Linked DNA regions of Homo sapiens. The protein of the gene in region 3 purifies or fractionates together with the protein of the main gene of each other region. This does not show direct contact. Each region holds a gene or a part of one and is shown on either strand. Other genes may lie near its edges.

The links.
Region 1: the proteins of ZNF207 (region 3) and SETD1A purify together in Homo sapiens (affinity purification with mass spectrometry, with the first as the bait; one study listed by BioGRID). This does not show direct contact.
Region 2: the proteins of ZNF207 (region 3) and TRAP1 purify together in Homo sapiens (affinity purification with mass spectrometry, with the first as the bait; one large-scale study listed by BioGRID). This does not show direct contact.
Region 4: the proteins of ZNF207 (region 3) and EIF5B purify together in Homo sapiens (affinity purification with mass spectrometry, with the first as the bait; one large-scale study listed by BioGRID). This does not show direct contact.
Region 5: the proteins of ZNF207 (region 3) and GPI purify together in Homo sapiens (affinity purification with mass spectrometry, with the first as the bait; one large-scale study listed by BioGRID). This does not show direct contact.

Annotation. Positions count from the first base shown.
Region 1 is NC_000016.10:30,960,073-30,964,253, reverse strand, and holds part of SETD1A (histone-lysine N-methyltransferase SETD1A), read right to left. Parts: intron 2,988-4,181; coding exon 2,717-2,987; intron 822-2,716; coding exon 700-821; intron 161-699; coding exon 1-160. UniProt on the Homo sapiens protein: Histone methyltransferase that catalyzes methyl group transfer from S-adenosyl-L-methionine to the epsilon-amino group of 'Lys-4' of histone H3 (H3K4) via a non-processive mechanism.
Region 2 is NC_000016.10:3,710,671-3,714,851, forward strand, and holds part of TRAP1 (heat shock protein 75 kDa, mitochondrial isoform 1 precursor), read right to left. Parts: intron 1-4,181.
Region 3 is NC_000017.11:32,374,157-32,378,337, reverse strand, and holds part of ZNF207 (BUB3-interacting and GLEBS motif-containing protein ZNF207), read right to left. Parts: 3' UTR 1-4,181. UniProt on the Homo sapiens protein: Kinetochore- and microtubule-binding protein that plays a key role in spindle assembly. ZNF207/BuGZ is mainly composed of disordered low-complexity regions and undergoes phase transition or coacervation to form temperature-dependent liquid droplets.
Region 4 is NC_000002.12:99,388,938-99,393,118, reverse strand, and holds part of EIF5B (eukaryotic translation initiation factor 5B), read right to left. Parts: intron 3,402-4,181; coding exon 3,270-3,401; intron 2,901-3,269; coding exon 2,718-2,900; intron 2,576-2,717; coding exon 2,414-2,575; intron 153-2,413; coding exon 21-152; intron 1-20. UniProt on the Homo sapiens protein: Plays a role in translation initiation.
Region 5 is NC_000019.10:34,388,653-34,392,833, reverse strand, and holds part of GPI (glucose-6-phosphate isomerase), read right to left. Parts: intron 1-4,181. UniProt on the Homo sapiens protein: In the cytoplasm, catalyzes the conversion of glucose-6-phosphate to fructose-6-phosphate, the second step in glycolysis, and the reverse reaction during gluconeogenesis.

The DNA.
Region 1 (4,181 bases), on a different chromosome or scaffold from region 3:
ACTGAGGTGTGAACTGGCCAAAGGAAGATGGGGTATCTTGTCGGCTGCTGGAGAAGCTTGTGTCCTGGGAGCAGGGGGTGCCGTTGCCAGGAGTGCCCACCGCAGTGGTGCCTGCTGGGTAGGCAGCTGTGTCAGAGGAAGAGCGGCGGCGGGATTCGGCCTAGAGCGACAGAGCAGGGCAAGGAGAGAGGAATGGGCTCAAACACCACTTGAGACCTGCCCTTTCCCAAACCAGGAATCCTAGTTCCCTTTTTTTTTTTTTGAGACGGAGTCTCGCTCTATTGCCCAGGCTGGAGTCCAGTGGCGTGATCTCGGCTCACTGCAAGCTCCGCCTCCCGGGTTCATGCCATTCTCCTGCCTCAGCCTCCCAAGTAGCTAGGACTACAGGCGCCCACCACCATGCCTGGCTAATTTTTTGCAGTTTTAGTAGAGATGGGGTTTCACCGTGTTAGTCAGGATGGTTTCAATCACCTGACCTCATGATCCACCCGCCTCGGCCTCCCAAAGTGCTGGGATTACAGGCGTGAGCCACTGTGCCTGGCCCCTAGTTCCCTGTCTTTTGAAAGCATCTCAGCAGCTTTGCTTGGCTCTTCTTTGTTTAACGGGAAAGCCCGGAACCTCCCGAAGACTGCTCCTGCTCCGGGCACCCGGACACCATGCCCACATGGCTAGGGGCTGTGGTAGCCACAAACTTCTCACCGTCTCAGTGGCTGCACCCGAGCCTTGGAACTTCTCACTCAGGGCCTTGCCCCCAGTGGGCACAGTCTGAGGGGTGTAGGAGCCATTGACAATTAGTTCATAGTATTTCATTCGTTGTTGTCCTGGAGGGAGGGAAATGGGAACCAATTGTCAGATGGAGATACTAACTCCTTCCTGATCTGGTATTCCTGCTTTCTCAGGCCTCAAGTTTCCTACAATTTCTTGGAATCTGGGTTTCAGGATTTCAGTTCTCCTACCATAACTCTACCTTTGGGACCTTCTACCTTATCTCTACCTCTAAACTACCACAAACAACATATTTTATGACACTTCACGATTTATCAAAAACACTTCTACTTATTTTACCATGTTGGATCACCAGAAGGGAAGCATCAGTACCTCTGTTCTAGAGGCTTAAAAGCGACCTACACAAAGTCACAGAATTGGTCATTGGAAAAATTGGAATTCAAACCCAGAGGCTCGATCACCCCATGCTCTTTATCCTGTAAACTAAAGCATGCAGAACAGCAACCGGGGGACTAACGGAGCCTGCAGGAGCTGTGGAGTGAACACCTCAGAAACACCTTGTGAGGAAAGAAACATGGTATTTAAAAACCATGAGATTTCACACAAAAACCCAAATTTCTGGCTTGAGTGCAGTGGCACGATGTAATCTCCACCTCCCAGGTTCAAGTGATTCTCATGCCTCAGCCTCTCGAGTAGCTGGGATTATAAGCATGAACCACCACGTCCGGATTTTTGTTATTTTTAATAGAAATGGGGTTTCACCATGTTGACCAGGCTGGTCTCGAGCTCCTGTCCTCAGGTGATCTGCCCACCTTGGCCTCTCAGAGTCTTGGGATTACAGGCGTGAGCCACCGCATGCCCGGCCCTGGCTTTCTTTTACAAACCAAATTCAAGAATGTTAAACCTCATTTCCACTTGCAAACTGGCCAGTGCCTACTAATGGCTGCCTCCTCCAGACAATACTGCAATCTGCAGCTCGCCACAGACCCCACTGCTCCCCATCACTCAACACAGAAGCCCAGACCACCTCGCTTGTGTTCACAGCTCCTTTACTCTCTATCTCAAATTTCCAAACCTAAAAACCCAGAAAATCCAGTATTTCTGAGAATCTGGCACCAAAACCTATATGGGTTATAGAATAGCATATAGAAAGATTAAAAAGAGGCCAGGCATGGTGGCTCATGCCTGTAATACCAGTACTTTGGGAGGCCGAGGCAGGCAGATCACTTGAGGTCAGGAGTTCAAGACCAGCCTGGCTAACAGGGTGAAACCCTATCTCTACTAAAAATACAAAAATTAGCCGGGCGTAGTGGCGCATAAATGTAATCCTAGCTACTCAAGAGGCTGAGGCAGAAGAATCACTTGAACCTGGGAGGTGGAGGTTGCAGTGAGCCAAGATCGTGCCACTGCACTCCAGCCTGGGCGACAGATTGAGATTCCATCTCAAAAAAAAAAAAAAAAAATTAAAAACAGGCTGGGCAGTGTAGTGAGACTTCATCTCTGCAAATAATCAAAAAAACTTTGGCCAGGTGTGGTGGTGCATGCCCATAATCCCAGCTACTCAGGAGGCTGGGGTGGCTGAGCCCAGGAGCTGGAGGCTGCAGTGAGGAAAGATCACGCCACTGCTCTCCAGCCTAGGTGACAGAGCAGGATCCTGTCTCAAAAACCAACCAAGCAACCAACCTGACCTGGGCTGATTTACTACAATCTATTCATCTTACCTAGTACAACCCTTCATATGATTTTTTTTTTTTTTTACAGATAGTTATGTGCTTGATTATGGCCTATTGCCCGACCTTGCTGGAGACACCACACACACAAAAATCCATGTACCATAATTCCACTCTAAAATCTGATCTGATTTCAGAAACACAACTGGCCCCAGCAGTTTCAGATCATGACCCTGGGCGCCTGCCTGACCCTGACAGGCATTTGCATGTACAACCTCCGCTGGAGGCCAAGCCTGAGTGGCAGGCAGAGGAGTCCTCACCTTTGATGTCAAGCTGGGCATGGATGATGTTGCCCATGACGGAGGTAAGGTGGAGGTTTTTGACCGTTTCCTTGGCGCCCCGAGTGCTGGTGAAGAGCACACGGGCCAGGCCCAGGTGCTTGCGCGTACGGGGGTGAAGGAGGATCTCTACCTCTTCCACCTCACCGTACTTACGGCACATATCCTTCAGGAAGGTCTCCCGCACGTTGTCATTCAGCCTTGCAAAAGTCACTTCCTTCAGTGGAATCTGTCCAATATAGAACTCGTCCAGCTGGGGAAAGAACAGGAGTTGGTATGGGGTCTCAACACTGACCACTGTTCCTTTGTCCTTCGGGAAACTTTAGCAAGCTCCATGAAGTCAAGAGAGAGATCCGGGAAAGTGAGGGGCAAGGGAAGGGGCCCAAAATAAGGGATCCATCAGACCTGACCCCTTTTCCCTGAATTCTTCTCACCACAGAATAACAGCAAGAATTAAGAACAGAAATGTGCAAACTAGGCCGGGTGTGGCAGCTCACACTTATAATCCCAACACTTTGGGAGGATGAGGTGGACGGATCACCAGAAGTCAGGAGTTCAAGACCAGCCTGTCCAACATGATAAAACCCTGTCTCTACTAAAAATACAAAAAAAAAAATTTAGCTGGATGTGATGGTGGGCACCTGTAATCCCAGCTACTCAGGAGGGTGAGGCAGGAGAATCACTTGAACCTGGCAGGCAGAGGTTGCACTAAGCCGAGATCACACCACTGCACTCCAGCCTGGGCAACACAGCGAGACTCCGTCTCAAAAAAAAAAAAAAAAAAAAAAAGAAAGAAAGAAAGAAATGTACACACTGAGGAATAAATATACGTGGAGAGAACGAGCTACAGGGCGATGATTTCCTAGCTCAGCCTTTACTAGGTAACTACCATGAACGAGGCACTGGAAATACAGAGATAGAAAGGAAGAGATTCCCATACAGAAAAGCAGCATGACATGCACATACAAACACAACACGACCCAGTGGCAGCTGACGCATACATGGTGTTCTGGAGCCCAGGGAAGGAAACTTTTGTACAGAGTATGATCAGGGAAGAATTCATAAAGATGGTGTCATTCTTACTGAGATTTGGGGATTAACAATTCATCAAATGACAAGGACCCCTGGAACATGGAAATATAAAACAACTTGGTGTTTTTGAAAAACCGCAAAGCGTTATGGTGTGGATGTAACACAGGGGTGTGGTGTCAAGGCGGAGGATAAGGCTTGGCCAGGTCAATAACCATACATGTCAGTGTCCCAAAACATGGACTTGGCAACAAAAGGAAAACAGCAGCGTAGTGAAGCCAAAGAGACAAATGACAGCAAGGCAGAGGAGAAACTGAGGCAAGAACGAAGGCAAGGAGACCAGGTGAAATGAATACCAAGGTCTACATTAAGTGGCAATGAGAATAGAAAGATGAAGAATAAAAAAGAAAAGAGCCAG
Region 2 (4,181 bases), on a different chromosome or scaffold from region 3:
AACATGGCAATGTGCTGTCTTAATTTCTCCTTCGAGGTGCATATCACTAACCCGACACACATAGTTACATTAGAAGGACCCACGTCCTTCTGTCTTCTTCTCAGCAGCATTGCTGAATAGCCTCCTGCTCTTAATATGGCATTTAATTTAGCTATCTCAAAATTAATTTCTTTTATATGTGTGTGTGTATATATATATATATATATATATTTTTTTTTTTGAGACACTGTCACTCTGTCACCCAGACTGTAGTGCAGTGGCGTGATCACAGCTCACTGCAGCCTCGACTTCTCAAGGCTTAAGGGAGCCTCCCACTTCAGCCTCTTGGGTAGCTGGGACCACAGGCACACCCAGCTAATTGGAAAAAAAAAAAAAAGGGTTTTTTGGTAGAGATGGGGGTCTCTCTAGGTTGCCCAGGCTGGTCTCAAACTCCTAAACTCACAGGATCCTCCCGCCGCAGCCCCCAAAGTGCTGGGATTACAAGCATGAGCTACCAGGCCTGGCCAATTTTTTACCTTCTAGCCACATTTCTTAATTATATGGCTATGAAGTAACTGAGCCATTCCTTTTAAAACCAATGATTCAGCTACATGTCCTTTCAATCTACCCAATCTACAGGAATTCACCTGGTTAAAAAGCCAATGGCAGGGCTGGGAACGGTGGCGCACACCTGTAATCCCAGCACTTTGGGAGGCCGAGGCAGGCAGATCACAAGGTCAGAAGTTCAAGACCAGCCTGGCCAACATGGTGAAACTCTACCTCAACTAAAAATACAAAAATTAGCCGGGCACGGTAGTGCATGCCTGTAGCCCCAGCTACTTGGGAGGCTGAGGCAGGAGAACTGCTTGAACCCGGGAGGTGGAGATTGCAGTGAGCCGAGTTCGTGCCACTGCACTCCAGCCTGGGAAACAGAGCAAGACTCCATCTTGAAAAAAACAAAAAAAAAACAAAAACCAAAACAAAAACAAAAAAAACACAGGTGGCAGTAATACTCCCGCAAGTAGATACTGTTTCTCCAAGCTACAGCTTTTATGGTAATTCCTAGTGGTTTTAGCAGAAATAACCAGCCACACCACAAATAAACTCCCTGAAATCTATTTTGTTAAATGCTGTGGAACTACAGGGAAGCCACTTTGTGGACTAAGAGCAGCTTCCTAGTAGAAGGCAGGTCTTCAGTAGGACTAAGCAGGACGGTGGTAAGAAAAGTTCTAGCTGGCTACACTTGAGGCACCAAAAACGCCATCCATGAACATTCTCTGGCTTTGAACCCAAAAGCACTTTTTACTTCATTTGAGTATGAATGGATACATTTTCAATCGCTATCAAGATTCTTTGTCAGGCCCGACGTGGTAGCTCATGTCTGTAATCCCAGCACTTTGGGAGGCCAAAGCAGGCAGATCAAAAGGTCAAAAGATTGAGACCATCTTGCCCAACACGGTGAAACCTCGTCTCTACTAAAAATACAAAAATTGGCTGGCCATGGTGGCATGCACCTGTAGTCCCAGCTACTCAGGAGGCTGAGGCAGGAGAACTGCCTGAATTCAGGAGGCGGAAGTTGCAGTGAGCTGAGGTCATGCCACTGCACTTCAGCCTGGCGACAGAAAGAATCTGTCTCAAAAAAAAAAAAAAAAAAAAAAAAAAAAAAAAAAGATATGTCAGCATTTTGAGACAAGCAAGTATCACAGGCCTCAGTAACAGCCTCTTTCATGGAACTCACCTTTGTCACATGGTATTTACTGACATGGGGGGCAGGAGTAAATGTTTATTTTCCCACAGTTTTCTTATCAACCTGACACCCCCATCCCCACCCCGCAAGCTGCATTCCCTCTCTTCCTGCCAAGGGGTAGCAAAATACTTGGAGATTCCTCTTTTGTCTTAGCTTAGGCCAACTACTCACCCAGTAACCAATAAACGCTTTGCTAATCTCTTACATTCGGATTGATGTGTTTGTTTCCAAGACAGAGTCTTGCACTGTCGCCCAGGAGGGAGTGCAGTGGCACAATCTTGGCTCACTGCAACCTCCAACCTCCACCTCCCAGGTTCAAGCAATTCTCGTGCCTCAGCCTCCCAAGTATCTGGGATTACAGGCGCCTGCCACCACCCTGGCTAATTTCTTTGTATTTTTAGTAGAGACGGGGTTTCGCCATGTTGGCCAGGTTGGTCTCAAATTCCTGAACTCAAGTGATCCACCCACCTCGGCCTCCCAAAGTGCTGGGATTACAGACGAGAGCCACCGCGCCCGGCCTGATGTGTTCTTTTTCAGGCACTCAGATAACTCAGTTCCCTTGGTCCTAACTAAGCTGAAGGTCCTCCTGGTGGCCTTGGACAGCTGGGCCACACCTTCCTCTGCCGTCTAAGTGCCAGCACCACAGCTTAATCAGACGACAAACATGTCATGGACGCTACACCTCTAGCGTCATCTCAGCAACACAAAGAGCTGTTTCACAGACAGAGTCGCAACTGACCAGCAAGTACTACTCCCCTCCACTCTGAAAAGAACAGCCGGAGAGCACCAGAAATTCACCTGAATTCTCCTGAAGGGTGCAGCACACAAGACACGGAAATCAAACAGCACAGGCTCCAAACAAAGGGAGAGCAGAGGGAGGAGGCAAAACCCGTCAACAAAACGAAGTACTGAAGGGGAGGGCGCAGCAGGCAGGCACCACCTACAGGAGCGGGGTCCAGGTGAGGCTCTTTTTGGAAGATGAAACAAACTAGCTAGTACTTGAGCCCTGAGCAAAGTGAGGAAACCAGCTCTCCCGACCTTCCTGGTGCTGGCAGGGGACCTACTCTCACAACTCTGATTTCCAAGACAGGAAGTTCCAGCAAAGGCTCCAGCTTACAGAGAACAAAAAGGCCCAAGATCTTAACGCCTGCACCAACCAGTCCTATCGTGGTTGCCTCAGTCATGTTCTGGCAATTTCACGAAAACAAGAGCATCTGGCATGACCAGGAGACTGGACTCGGCACCCTTGGTGATTGTGGCAGTCACCTCGTCATGCAAAATGACCAACCCGTCACCGTACCTGCCTGACCACAGAATCACGTTTGCTTTGGGAGACTGCGTCTGCTGTTGATCTTTCCAGGTCTTCCCTCTCCTTTAGGAGGCGGCCTCATCCTTCTACTGGCACATCTGACACTTCTGACAGTTGGAGCTCTGACGAAAAGCTCTCATGGTGGGCCACGTGGCTGGGCTCCCCACACACCAGGCCCAGGGCTGGCTCTGTGACTGTCCTGAGGAATGCAGGATGAGGCTCCTACGCACAAGCTTATATCTGACAGAAAAGACACAACTGCTAGCCTCATTCACCATCACTCCTGCACACTCCCGCAAGTCTTTCATCAAACCAATTATTCAGAGCTATCTCCTTACCCTTGCACCTGCAGCTTTCCAGACATGGAACGTTCCTCCCTCCCCTCCAGTGAAAACAGCCTTGGACACTCGGCCCAAATCGCTCCTCATCTGTGAAACTTACCCTGGGGCAAGCAGCTCTTGTTTCTCTAATGTGCTGTCCAGGCCACCAAGATGGCCCTGGTACACTGCTCAGCAGCCACCTATGACTCCAGACAGCAGGGTCACATTTTCTTTGACGACTCGGGGGCATTGGAAATGTATTTGCTGAATAAACTGTTATGGGCAAAAATGACAAATATAAAGTCCACAAGCGGATATCCTAGCCCACCCCTCACAGAAATATTCTGAGGGTAGGCCAGGCGCAGTGGCTCACGCCTGTAATCCCAGCATTTTGGGAGGCCAAGGCTAGTGGATCATGAGGTCAGGAGTTCGAGACCACCCTGGCCAGCATAGTGAAACCCCATCTCTATTAAAAATACAAAACCTAGCTGGGTGTGGTGGCATGCGCCTGTAGTCCCAGCTACGTGGGAGGCGAAGTCAGGAGAATCACTCGAACCCAGGAGGCGGAGGGTGTGGTGAGCTGAGGTTGCACCACTGCACTCCAGCCTGGGCAACAGAGCAAGACTCCGGCTCAAAAAAAATCAAATAAGATATTCTGAGGGCAAGTGACAGGGCTGGCAGTGTCAGGGGTCAGTGAGGTCTGAAAGGGTAAGAGGGCTGAGCTCATGGGTGACTGAGGCAGCGTAGCATGGGCGAGAGGATTCCACAGACATAAGACACGCACACCTGAAGCCAGGCACATGCTACAACCTGGAAATACTTTCCC
Region 3 (4,181 bases):
GAGAGAACCACCATGAAATAGCTTAAGTAAAAGACCCTGGACCCAAAGCCCTGGACTCCATATCATCTATCAACAAGGGCATAGCCAACTGAAACTGTCTTTTCCTTTTATGTACAATGTATCTACTTAGGTTGAACCACAAGGAGATAACAAAGGAGCAGTATTACACCTTTATTACAACTGGGGTTAGCAAACCTAGATCTACTTTGGCCCAAGTACTGAGTGTTTAAAGTGTCCAATGGATCTATTATTAGTTATACTAACATTTAAGTAACCGCACAGCTTTCTTCCTTGTGTGAGTTATATGGATATGTTTGAAAAAAATAGGAACATCAGGTACTTACAGATTAAACTAACCTGTACTGGCAGGGCTGTGGGATTTTTCTTCTCTACCAGTAAGTAGCAAATGCTGAAATTCTGCTGCTAGTTAACAAAAACACAAATTGTATTAAACTGAGGAGTTCAATCCATAGTTTAAAAAGTCAATGTGCATTAAATTTCCTCAGAGCCTGATACTAATACATTTAAAACTTTTCCCTAGTTTTTTTTTTTTTTAAACAGAAGTTACCTTATATTGGCTATTTAGAATGAGCTAATTAACATTGAAAATCTCTTGGACACATCTCAATTTTACTATGTATTCCAGTATGTGAACTGTGATAGAAATTTTGATTACTCTAAAAAGGGGATGGGCATATATCTTAAACATGTGGGAATTTCTAAATTTAAACGAATATGTAGACATACCCCCAAAGACAAGCAATTTTTAAAAGTTTTTAATTCAACTTTTGTAAAAATTGATTTTGTCACATCAGAGATTCTCAATTTTAAAAACATGTACTGAGAAGCAAATTCTATTGTTTCTCTTTGAATAAGCGAACAGGTAAAAGGGGGCTTTGCTCAATAACTAGATGCTCTGTATTTTTTCTAACTCAGACTTACAGTAACTGTAGTAACTCTTCCCTTGCTCCACTTGGGTACTTAAGCAGCCTCATTTTATTAGTAAAGACTCGGATATGATGGTGCAAATCTTTTTTTTTTCACCTCTGTGACTGCTAAACTATTTATGAATAAAATTTTAATAAGAAGCTACATTAAAATACTATGGTGAGACCTCACTAACAAATGCAAATCATGAGCAAGAATGCCATTACTTTTCAATATATTTAAGGTTCTTAAGTCAAACAATACTACCCAGTGTTCTCTCCCAAATAATCACTATTGGTCCATGTGTAGTAAACTGGGAAAATATCATTCTTCATTTTTATCCAAGTTGGCCATCAATGAATTTCACTGTTAGTTCCTCAGACTTAACCAATGGTGAAGGAACACAGATTCCACCATAATAGTAAAATGCAAACCAACCAACCCAGACACTAACAATGTCAGAGGGCTTAGAAAATGCCAATAAAGTACTTCACCTTTTTACAAACACAGCACACATTACTGAAGCTGTGCCAGATTACTACCTTATAGACCATTACATCATTTAGAATTAATGGGTGGGTTCCAAGTAATCAACCATTAAGACAGTTTACTCACATGTACCTCCTCTGAGGTTATTTTGATAAAAATTAAAACATAAACATAAACATTCTCATAACGGATTGTATGCCTCTTAAAGAACCTAACCATCAAAGTTTCCATCTAATTAGCCAGTCTAGATTTATAATAGTGTTCAATTTGCTTCAAATAGGAATAGTTCAAATTAGTTTCAGCGAAGACCTACCTTGTTTGGGCTACAAATTTCTGCCTCAATATGACTACTACTTCCGCTTAGTAAAATAAAGACATTTTCCCCTGAGAATACATGAGACTAACTGAACAGATTTAAAGAGAGATGATTCAGATTTCTCAAACTAATTTAGTTCCAAACTATTATTTTCCAGAGTTAAGAAAATGAAAAGCTTTTCAAGACTAAAATATTATGCAAAAATGTATAGAGCCAAGAGCAAGAAAAATATACTTATTAAAAGCAATTATCTTACTGAAGAATTTTTTTAATGTTACTTTAAAACGTAATCTATTTTCTAACAAAAATGCCAGGTAAAAAAATAAAGATAGATGTTTTAGGGCTTAAACACTTGGAAAAGGTGGATATATTTAAAGTTATTGGGAAGCGCAAACTGAAGTCCTACTTTCTCCATTTCCTACATATTGGTTTGAATTAGATCCATAATAGGGTGCCTAAGAGCTTAAGATAGTAGTTTAGAAAACTCAGCACTAATCACAAAATTAATGAATATCCATTATGTACATGACCATACATCAAGTGCTTATTTTGCCAAGAAACATCACACAGAAAAGTCAGATGATTTCTTTGCTATAAAAACAAAAGGTTATTATTTAAATGATTCAATGACAGAAATTAAAATACTGAGAAAGGGTTTCTAAAAAGGAGTAAACTTTACTGTCATGAGACAGTTAGCATAAGTGGAATTGGGGGAATGTTTACTTATAAAAATCTGCCCTATAGTCAAATAGCCTTATAATTGAATCCCCTTTTAAAGGACTTTTACATAAAAGTTACAATGAAGAGCAAACAAATTTCAATTTGGAATAACGCAGAAAGATTACTCAATATTAGGTCAATAATGACAACCTTTTAAAAAAGACATTCATGTCTGTATAATTTTAGAGTATCTACTTCTAGGGTACATGTCTATTTTCATCAGCTTATTCAAACAAAATTTTGACTCAGTTAAAGTGGTGACTTCACAATTTTCTTTCATTTGCCAAGTTTTACTAGTGGATGTTACAGACACCTAAAAACTACATAATTCTCAAAATCTTATTTGTCTGAGTCACAGAACTACAAAAAAAAAGGAACTATCTTAGTTATCTATAGATATTACCTTCAACAGATTATGACATTACTAAATCCTTCCCACCCCCAGTACTCAACCAGATAAGAGCCTGTATTTCCAGCACACTTTTTTCAATTATCACCATTAGAATTAAGATAAGCAACTTAGAAAGATTTCAGCATATTGCAGGATGGTAGGTAATAGAGAAAACAGATCTCCAATTAAGGACTCTTAAATGTTGATTACTGAGGTTATAAAATAGTCCAATGGGATATTTTGTCATGGAAGCAACAAAATTCTTTAAATATTAAAATCCTATTAGTTATAGTGAAAAACATGTTATTTAACAAGTCAAAATTTACAATTCATTTAATGCATATTTTTTCTTTATGCTTCCAAGAATGAAAACCATATACAAACAATTCCAGGTTTGCTAAATGCTATACTGCTTGTTCATTGTTACTGCTCAGAGTAAACTGCTATCTGGATAGAATCGTGGCTCAAACACAAGAAACAAAAGTAATTCAGGTTTGTTTTTGGCCTCTCTTCCAATTCCCTAATTATTCCCTACAACAAACACACGCACACAACTTTTCTCACCAAATAAAAGCAAATTTTAGTTGGAAACAAATGTGGATACTTTTCACATGTGCGTAAAACACTGTTCAGTGAGGCTGAAAATGAACCTCAAAATAATCACTCCAAAACCATAGTTTAACATACTTTACCACAGGATCAGGTATCAAATTTCAGTTTCGATACCTGAAAATTAGTAATCCATCCATGCTGAAAGGTCTGTAACACCCAAATTCTGTTGTTATATCAACTATATGGTCTATACCCCCACATACACAAGCACACACATAGACACCACCTTCCCACCTTTACAGGGCTCTACATTAACATTTGCTCTAATGTGGTGAGGCTTGAAAATATTTTAAAATTAAGCATTTCCAGATGACCTTTTAGCCTTAACATTCAATGCGTAAGTTTGTGATTAAGAATGCAGATTTTGGCCAAGCGCGGTGGCCCACGCCTGTAATCCCAGCACTTTGGGAGGCCGAGGCAGGGGGATCGCAAAGTCAGGAGATCGAGACCATCCTGGCTAACACGGTGAAACCCCGTCTCTACTAAAAATACAAAAAATTAGCCGGGTGTGGTGGCAAGCACCTGTAGTCCCAGCTACTCGGGAGGCTGAGACAGGAGAATCGCTTGAATCCAGGAGGTGGAGGTTGTAGTGAGCTGAGATCGTGCTACTGCACTCTGGCCTGGGTGACACAGCGAGACAGTCTCAAAAAAAAAAAAAAAAAAAAAAAAAGAATGCAGATTTTGGCCAGGCGCGGTGGCTCACACCTGCTACTCCAGCACTCTGGG
Region 4 (4,181 bases), on a different chromosome or scaffold from region 3:
AAATTTTTAAATGAACTTACTTTAAGAACAGGGATTTCATCTTCTTTATAAGCCACAAGGAGGGGTAAACCAGCCAATGTTTTCTCCAGGTCTTTTCCAAGAATCTTTACCCCCTGAGCTGCTTCTACTTCTTTATGCTTTTCATACTGGTTCTACAGAGATAAAAACATTTGTTACCAAATGTACTTTAAAAGTGGTTAGCAGTAGAAGATGATATAAGAGAATCTCATCATGATATTAGAGAGAGGTTTCTTAAACGAGGCACAAAAAGCAATAATCACAAGACTGATAAATTTAACATTAAAATTAAATATTTCCATTTCTCAAAATACCACAGGAAAAAAAAAGTCACAAGAGTAGAAGATATTGCAAAACACACCAACTAACAAACCGGTATCCTGAATATATAAGCGCATATAAATCTGTAAGAAAGATAATGCAGAAGAAAAATGTACATCTCACGAAGGAGGAAATAAATGGCCAATAAACATTTTTAAATGACCAACCAGGTTAACAATTAGGCAAATGCACACTGAAACGGCAATGAGCTACACACTTAGCAGAATGGCAAAAAAAATTTAAAACCTAACATCCAAGAACTGATGAAGCTGTAAAACAATGAAACTAAAATACTGCAGTTGAGAATATAATTTGTTACACCCACTGTAGACAAGTGTGGCCTTCACTCCTAGGTATACATACCCTGGGAAACTGGCACAAACACATCAAGAGATGTTCACAGCAGCAGCATTATTAGTAACAACAAAAATCAAAAACTGGGCCGGGTGCGGTGGCTCACTTAGGGAGGCTGAGGTCAGGAGTTCGAGACTAGCCTGGCCAACACGGCAAAACCCCACCTCTACTAAAAATACAAAAATTAGCCGGGTGTGGTGGCGTGCACCTGTAATCCCAGCCTGGATGACAGACTGAGACTCCATCTCAAAATAAAATAAAATAAAATAAACATAAAAAACTGGAGATCACCTACATTTCCCATCAACAGAACAGATAGATATGTTGTGATATAGTCACACAATGGAATAGAAATCTTAAAATTATATACTTTTTTTTTTTCACTAAAGGAAGCCAGATATAGGCCAGGCATGGTGGCTCATGCCTATAATCCCAGCACTTTGGGGAGATCAAGGTGGGTGGATTGCTTGAGCCCAGGAGGTCAAGACCAGCCTGGGCAACATGACAAAGTCCCATCTGTAAACAAATTAGCCAGGTGTGGTGGTGCGTACCTATAGTCCCAACTATTCAGGAGGCTGAGGTGGGAGGATCACCTGAACCCCGGGGAGGTTGAGGCTGCAGTGAACTGTGACTGCACCACTGCACTCCAGCCTGGGTGACAGTGAGAGCCTATCACCAAAAAAAAAAAAAAAAAAAGAGCCAGCTATAAAAGTACACACTGAGAATAACTCCATTTCTACATAAAGTCTACAGACACTTCTAAGGGAAGTACTCTTAGACACAAAAACAAAGCAAAGCAAGGATATTTGTTACTGTCATAAAATGCAACCATGGTTAACTCTATGAAAGGTCAGGGGGTAGGAGGGGAAGGCAGGGGAGTTGATCAGGAAGAAGCACACAGGAAGCTTCTGGGTGCCAGCAGCGTTCTGATTCTCCATCTGGTTGCTTCCCAAAAATGTGTTAAACTTTTCTTCTATGTTGTGTGTACTTTTCAGGAGCAATGTTTTATTTCACAATTAAAAATGTTAAAAAACTACAGCTGACCCTTGAACAAAATGGGCTTGAACTGCATATGTCCACTTATACTCAGATTTTCTTCTGCCTCTGCCACCAAACACAGCAAGGCCTACCCCTCTCCTTCTTCCCTCTCAGCTTACTCAACATGAAGATGAGAATGAGGACCATTATGATGATCCACTTCCACTTAACAAATAGTAAATCTATTTTCCTTATGATTTTCTTAATCACGTTTTCTTTTCTCTAGCTTGTTTTACTGTAAGAATGCAGTATGTAATATATAAAACATACAAAACATGTTAGTCGACTGTGTATGTGATTGGTAAGGCTTCTGGTCAATGGTAGGCTATTAGGAGTTAAGTTTTTGGGGAGTCAAAAAATATATGTGGATTTTCAACTGGCCAGGGAGTCAGTGCCCCTAGCCCTCATGTTGTTCAAGAGTCAACCGTATTTAGCAGTGTAGAACCATAACAGTGTAGTTTAGAATCTGGCAAAGGCCCAGTCTGGTAAGCAGGTACTTTCACACATCTCTACTCTGACAGACAGGCCTTCCTGTATGATGACAACTAAAATAAAAGGGAGAGCGAGGGATGTATGTGTTCTGTATTAAGTCAAACAGCTTTCAAAGTGAGGAAACCATCTCAGCAGAACTTCTAAACACTGTACAAGTCCCCACGTGTCAATGCTTCCCACCTCAGCATACCTTCACTCGTAATTCCTTCATAGGAGGAGGTAACAGGAGGCCTCGAATCTGAGTTACAATGGGCCCTTCTACTCCAGGAACAATGATTGTATCTCCTTCCTTCAAACGCCCATTGATCAAGATGACATCTATAGTGGTGCCCATCCCCGGGAGAGCTTTAACCTAAAAGGCATTAATGCAAAGAGAAAGACATACATACAATGCACCATGTTCATTAAATCTAAAAGTAGTAAATATCCTCCACTCAAGGAACTTGCTATTTTTAAAAAAAAAAAAAACAATAAACTGAAAAGTTGATCATTACCTCCATCACCTGTGCTCTCAGCTCTTCACAGTGTGCAAGTCTCTTGCTCAACATGGTCTGAGTTAACTCTACAAGAAGGTAGATCAGACTTCCCATGCCATCACCAGTATGTGCAGAGGTAGGTACCAAAGACACAAAAGTGCGGGGATCTTTATTCTCATAAAACAAAGCAGCATTCAAACCCTAGGAGCAAAAATCATCCAAAATGCCAGGCTGTAAAGAAAACGTATCTGGAATAGGTGTGCCTCACTAGAAGCCGGATGAGCAAATGGCTCATCATTTTGAAACTCCTCATAAACACTAAAAATGATCATGTATATCCTATAAGCATTAACTGTATTATAGCAAAGTAGTTCTAAGTCAACTCAGTTTTCTAAATTAAAGTATTCAGACTGCAAAGAAAAAGGAGAAAAGGGAAGAAGAATTTAAAAAAAGTAATTGCTGTCAACAGAGGAAAAGAACCAGTATTAATGAAAATGCTGACTTCATTATAAAGATAATATAATACATATTCTGAGATAGGCTCTTCAGAAAGAAGGAAGGCCTTCTTACCTGCTGTGCAAATTCTACAATAATAGCCTTTGCTCGCTCCTCAAATTCATCTTTTGTATTCTTTTTCTGCTTCTTTAAAGTAGCAGCCACATCAGAGTCAGGACTCTTTTTCCAATCATATAACCTATCAATCTGAAAAAGTTTTTTCATGAGAAAGATCTCTAAAAAATTCAGAACATTCAAGAACTGTATTAATAGCTCCAGAAAATTCCTCATGTGTGTCTCATATATACAGAACAGTGTGACTTACTCATACACTTTATTGTACCAAAAGCTCCTTTCAGACTGCTTATCGGCACCTGCTCTTAAATTAGAAACTGCTGTGGTGCCATGCTGCCCCTGTCAGCCTCCATGAGTTCCTAAGTGGCTGCCATTTGTTTGCAAAAGATAACATCCTAGAATTATCCTAAGACTATTAATGTATATTGTTGGAATTCCGAAACAGTTTTTGTAACAAATCAATCAATCCCAGCAAGTACCATCACTATAAAATTATATACCAAAAAATTAAAAAATATATATTTTCTAAGGGAACAGCCTATTTTAATTATTTTATTGCTCAAATTAGGATTAAATCTGTTTTGTTAATGACAGAATCTATTTTCCCTCACTTTTCAACATGAGAGATAAATGAGCATAGAAGAAATGAAAAATACTTGCTAGCCAAACAAACAATCAAAAGCATAATCTGTCTGGGGACAGAGTCTAGGGTGACAAAATAAAGAATCAGACGAATCTGAATGCTACTAAGGAGACAAATCAGTAGGAAATGACGAAGATGTTAAAATTAGCATATGAGGTCCTTAGAATATTTATAAACATGCTCAACACCTTTAAAGGAAAAGCCTGAAGCTTGTAAAGCTAAATAATAAAAACATGTCTAACTAGTAATTAGAAATTAACACTTTTAAA
Region 5 (4,181 bases), on a different chromosome or scaffold from region 3:
CACGGACACACCCAGATCCTCATACTCATACCAGATCCTACCTCCTCAGATATGGACAGACCCAGGGTCTCACACCCATGCCCAGCCTCACCTCCCCAGACACTGGCAGACCCAAGGCCTCATACCTGCACACAGCTTCAACTCTTTAGACATGGTCAGACCCAGATGCTCATGCCTGTGCCAGATCCTACCTCCTCAGACATTGAAAAACCCAGATCCTCATACCTGTATGAGATCCTACCTCCTCAGATACTGACAGACCCAGATCCTCATACCAGGGCCAGATCCTACTTCTTCAGACACTAGAAGACACAGACCCTCCTACCAGGGACAGATCCTACCTCCTCAAATACTGACAAACCCAGATCCTCATACCAGGGCCAGATCCAACCACTTCAGACACTGACAGACTCAGGTCTTCATACCTGTATCAGATGCTACCTCCTCAGACATAGACCCAGATCCTAATACCTGTATCAGATCCTACTTCCTCAGATACAGAGACATGAAGATCCTCACACCTGTACCAGATTCCTAATTCCTCAGACACTGACACACACACAGATCCTCATACCTGTACCAGATTCCTACCTCTTCAGATATTGACAGACTCAGATCCTCATAAGGGGGCCAGATCCAACCTCCTCAGAAATTGACAGACTGAGATCTTCTTACTAGGGCCAGATCCTACCTCCTCAGAAACTGACAGATGCAGATCCTCTTACCAGTGCCAGATCCTACCTCCTCAGACATTAACAGACCCAGATCCTCACACCTGTACCAGATCCTACCTTCTCAGACATTGAAAGACCCAGATCCTTATACCTGCACCAGATCCTACCTCCTCAGACATGAACAGAACCAAATCCTCATACTCATGCCAGATCTTACCTCCAGACATGACAGACCCAGATCCTCATACCTGTACCAGATACTGCCTCCTCAGACATTGACAGACCCAGATCCTCATGCTTATGCCAGATCCTACCTCCTCAGTCACTGACAGAACCAGATTCTCATAATTAATACCAGATCCCACCTCCTCAGACACTAGAAGATCCAGATTCTCATACCTGTGCCAAATGCCACCTCCTCAGACACCCGAAGACCCAGATCCTCACAACTGTACCAGATCCTACCTCCTCAGATACTGACAGACCCAGATCCTCATACATGTACCAAATTCCCACCTCTTCAGAAATTGACAGACCCGGATCCTCATACCAGGGACACATCCTACCTGCTCAGACATGGACAGACCCGGATTCTCATACCAGGGCCAGATCCTACCTCCTCAGACATTGACAGACCCAGATCCTCATACCTATAAGAGATCGTACCTCCTAAGTCACTGGAAGACACATCTCCTCATTCCTGTACCAGATGGTAACTCCTCAGACTTTGACAGACGCAGATCCTCATACCTGTACCAGATTCCTACCTCCTCTGATATTGACAGACCCAGATCCTCATTCCTGTACCAGATGGTAACTCCTCAGACATGGACAGTCCTAGATCCTCATACCAGGGCCAGATCTTACCTCCTTAGACATGGACAGACCCAGATCCTCATACCAGGACCCGATCCCACCTCCTCAGATACTGATGGACACAGATCCTCATACTTGTACCCAGCCTCACTTCCCCAGACACTAGAAGACTCAGGGCTTCATACCTGTGCCAGATGCTATCTCCTCAGGCACTGGAAGCCCAAGGGCCTCAAACCTGAGTCCAAACTCACCTCCTCAAACACTGGAAGACGCAGATCCTCATATCTGTGCCAGGTGCTACCTCCTCAGACATGGAAGACCCATATCCTCATACCTGTGCCAGGTGCTACCTACTCAGACACGGGAAGACCCAGATCCTCATACCTGTGCCAGGTGCTACCTCCTCAGACACAGGAAGACCCAGATCCTCATACCTGTGCCAGGTGCTACCTCCTCAGACACGGGAAGACCCAGATACTCATACCTGTGCCAGGTGCTACCTCCTCAGACACTGGAAGACCCAGATTCTCATACCTGTGCCAGGTGCTACCTCCTCAGACATGGAAGACCCATATCCTCATACCTGTGCCAGATGCTACCTCCTCAAACATTGGGAAGACCCAGATCCTCATACCTGTGCCAGGTGCTACCTTCTCAGACACAGGAAGACCCAGATTTCATACCTGTACTAGATGTTACCTCCTCAGACACCAGCAGACCCAGGGCCTCATACCTGTAACCTGCTGTTATCTCCTCAGACACCAGCAGACCCAGGGCCTCATACTTGTACCAGATCCTACCTCCTCACACACTGGAAGACCCAGATGTCATACCTGTACTTAGCCCACCTCCTTGGATACCTCTTCCAGCACCACATACCTGTACCAGGCCCTACTTCCATAGACACTTGCAGACCCAGAGCCCCTTACCGGTGCCAGGACCCACCTTCTCAGTCTCATACTTGTGCCCAGGTATGCTTCCTTGGACAATGAAAGACCCAGCAGCTCTCTGCTACACTTGGCTAGGTCTCCTCAGATATTAAAAACCCACAGCTACATTTCTGTTCCCCAGCCCACCTGCTTGAACAGTGGCCCAGTGCCTCATACTTGTGCCAGGCCCCACATCCTCAGATACTGACAAACCCAGATCCTCACACCTGTGCCATTCTTTGTTGAACAATGAAGACTCATCACTTTGTACCTGTGCCCATTCCCAACTCCTCAGGTGGTACTGACAGATCCAGAACCTTAGACCTGTGCCTCACCCCACCTCCTGGACACTGACAGGCCCAGTGGGTCATATCTGGGCTTGACCGATCTTCTCGGCCTATCACCTAGGCCTATCATTCACACTGCACCTTCTCAAGCCACACCTGCAAGCTCCACTTGGTGCCATCAGAGTCCTCAGAACTTCACGGATGTCTTCCTAACAGCTGTTTATGGAGCACCTCCCACATTTCTAGCACAGGCAACGGACACAGAGTGTGGGAGAGAGACGTACATCAAATAATCATGCCAATAAATGTGAAACTGAGAAACAAGTGCTGAGGAGAAATTGGAACATGGTGCTGAGGCCACTTATAAAAGGAACCTGAGGGGTACTTGACCCTTGATCTCAAGAACGAGCAGGCATGACCCAGAGAAGCACTGAGGGAGCATTCCAGCAGCCATAACAGCACATGCAAAGGTCCCGTGGCCAAAGCAGTCTTTCTCAAGCGTGACAGAATTAAGGCCCACAGAAAATGATCTGAGTGACTTCTCAGTTCTCCCAAGGATGGTCCAAGACTAGTAACCTTCTAGACACGAAGGAGAGGTGCCCACTTATTACATCCAGTAGATGCCTTGGGCTGTGAGGGCTTAATTCTCTCCTGGAAGCCCACTGAGGCAGGGGGAAGCATAGCACCTTCCAGAGGATAAAGGAAGGGGTGGGGACCGCAGGGTGGAAGCTGAGAGGCACGGTGGGAGGACTGAGAACAGTCTGCGGCTAAGACAAGGACAGAAGCAAACAAGCCACTTTGAAGCCCCGGAGATGGACTGGGGAGTGCAGAGGACTCATTCTGGGAGCTCTCCAGTGTGGCCGAGAGGTTTCTGGCTTGGGCAATGAGATGACCGGTGGGGCCACTCACTTGGAAAGGCTCTGGGTTTCCGGGAACCTTACCTGACAGACGCAGTCCTACAGACTACATCATGCTTGACATAGGCTCTCACATCTCATCTAACAGATGCAGTTCTATTTTTTTCTTTTTTTTTTAAGAGACAGGGTCTTGCTCTGTTGCCCAGGTGGAGTGCAGTGGCATGATCACAGCTCACCGCAGCCTCAAACTCCTGGGCTCAAGTGATCCTCCCATCTCAGCCTCCCCAGTAGCTGGGACTACAGGCACACACCACCATGCTTGACTATTTTTTAAATTTTTTGTAGAGATGGGGTCTTGCTCTGTTGTCCAGGCAGGTTTTGAACACCTGGCCTCAGCCTCCCATCTCAGCCTCCCGAAGCTCAGGGATTACAGCCATGAGCCACCACACCCAGCCCAGACTCAGCTCTAGAAACTAAACTTCAGCACACAGCCAGCCCTCTGGCTGACAGAGTCCAGGCTGCTCACCTTGGCCGAGAACAGGTCCTCAGATCCCAGTTTTGTGACAGCCCAGCAATGCCAAGCAGTGTCTGACCTGAGCCTCCGAACCCTCAATCTGC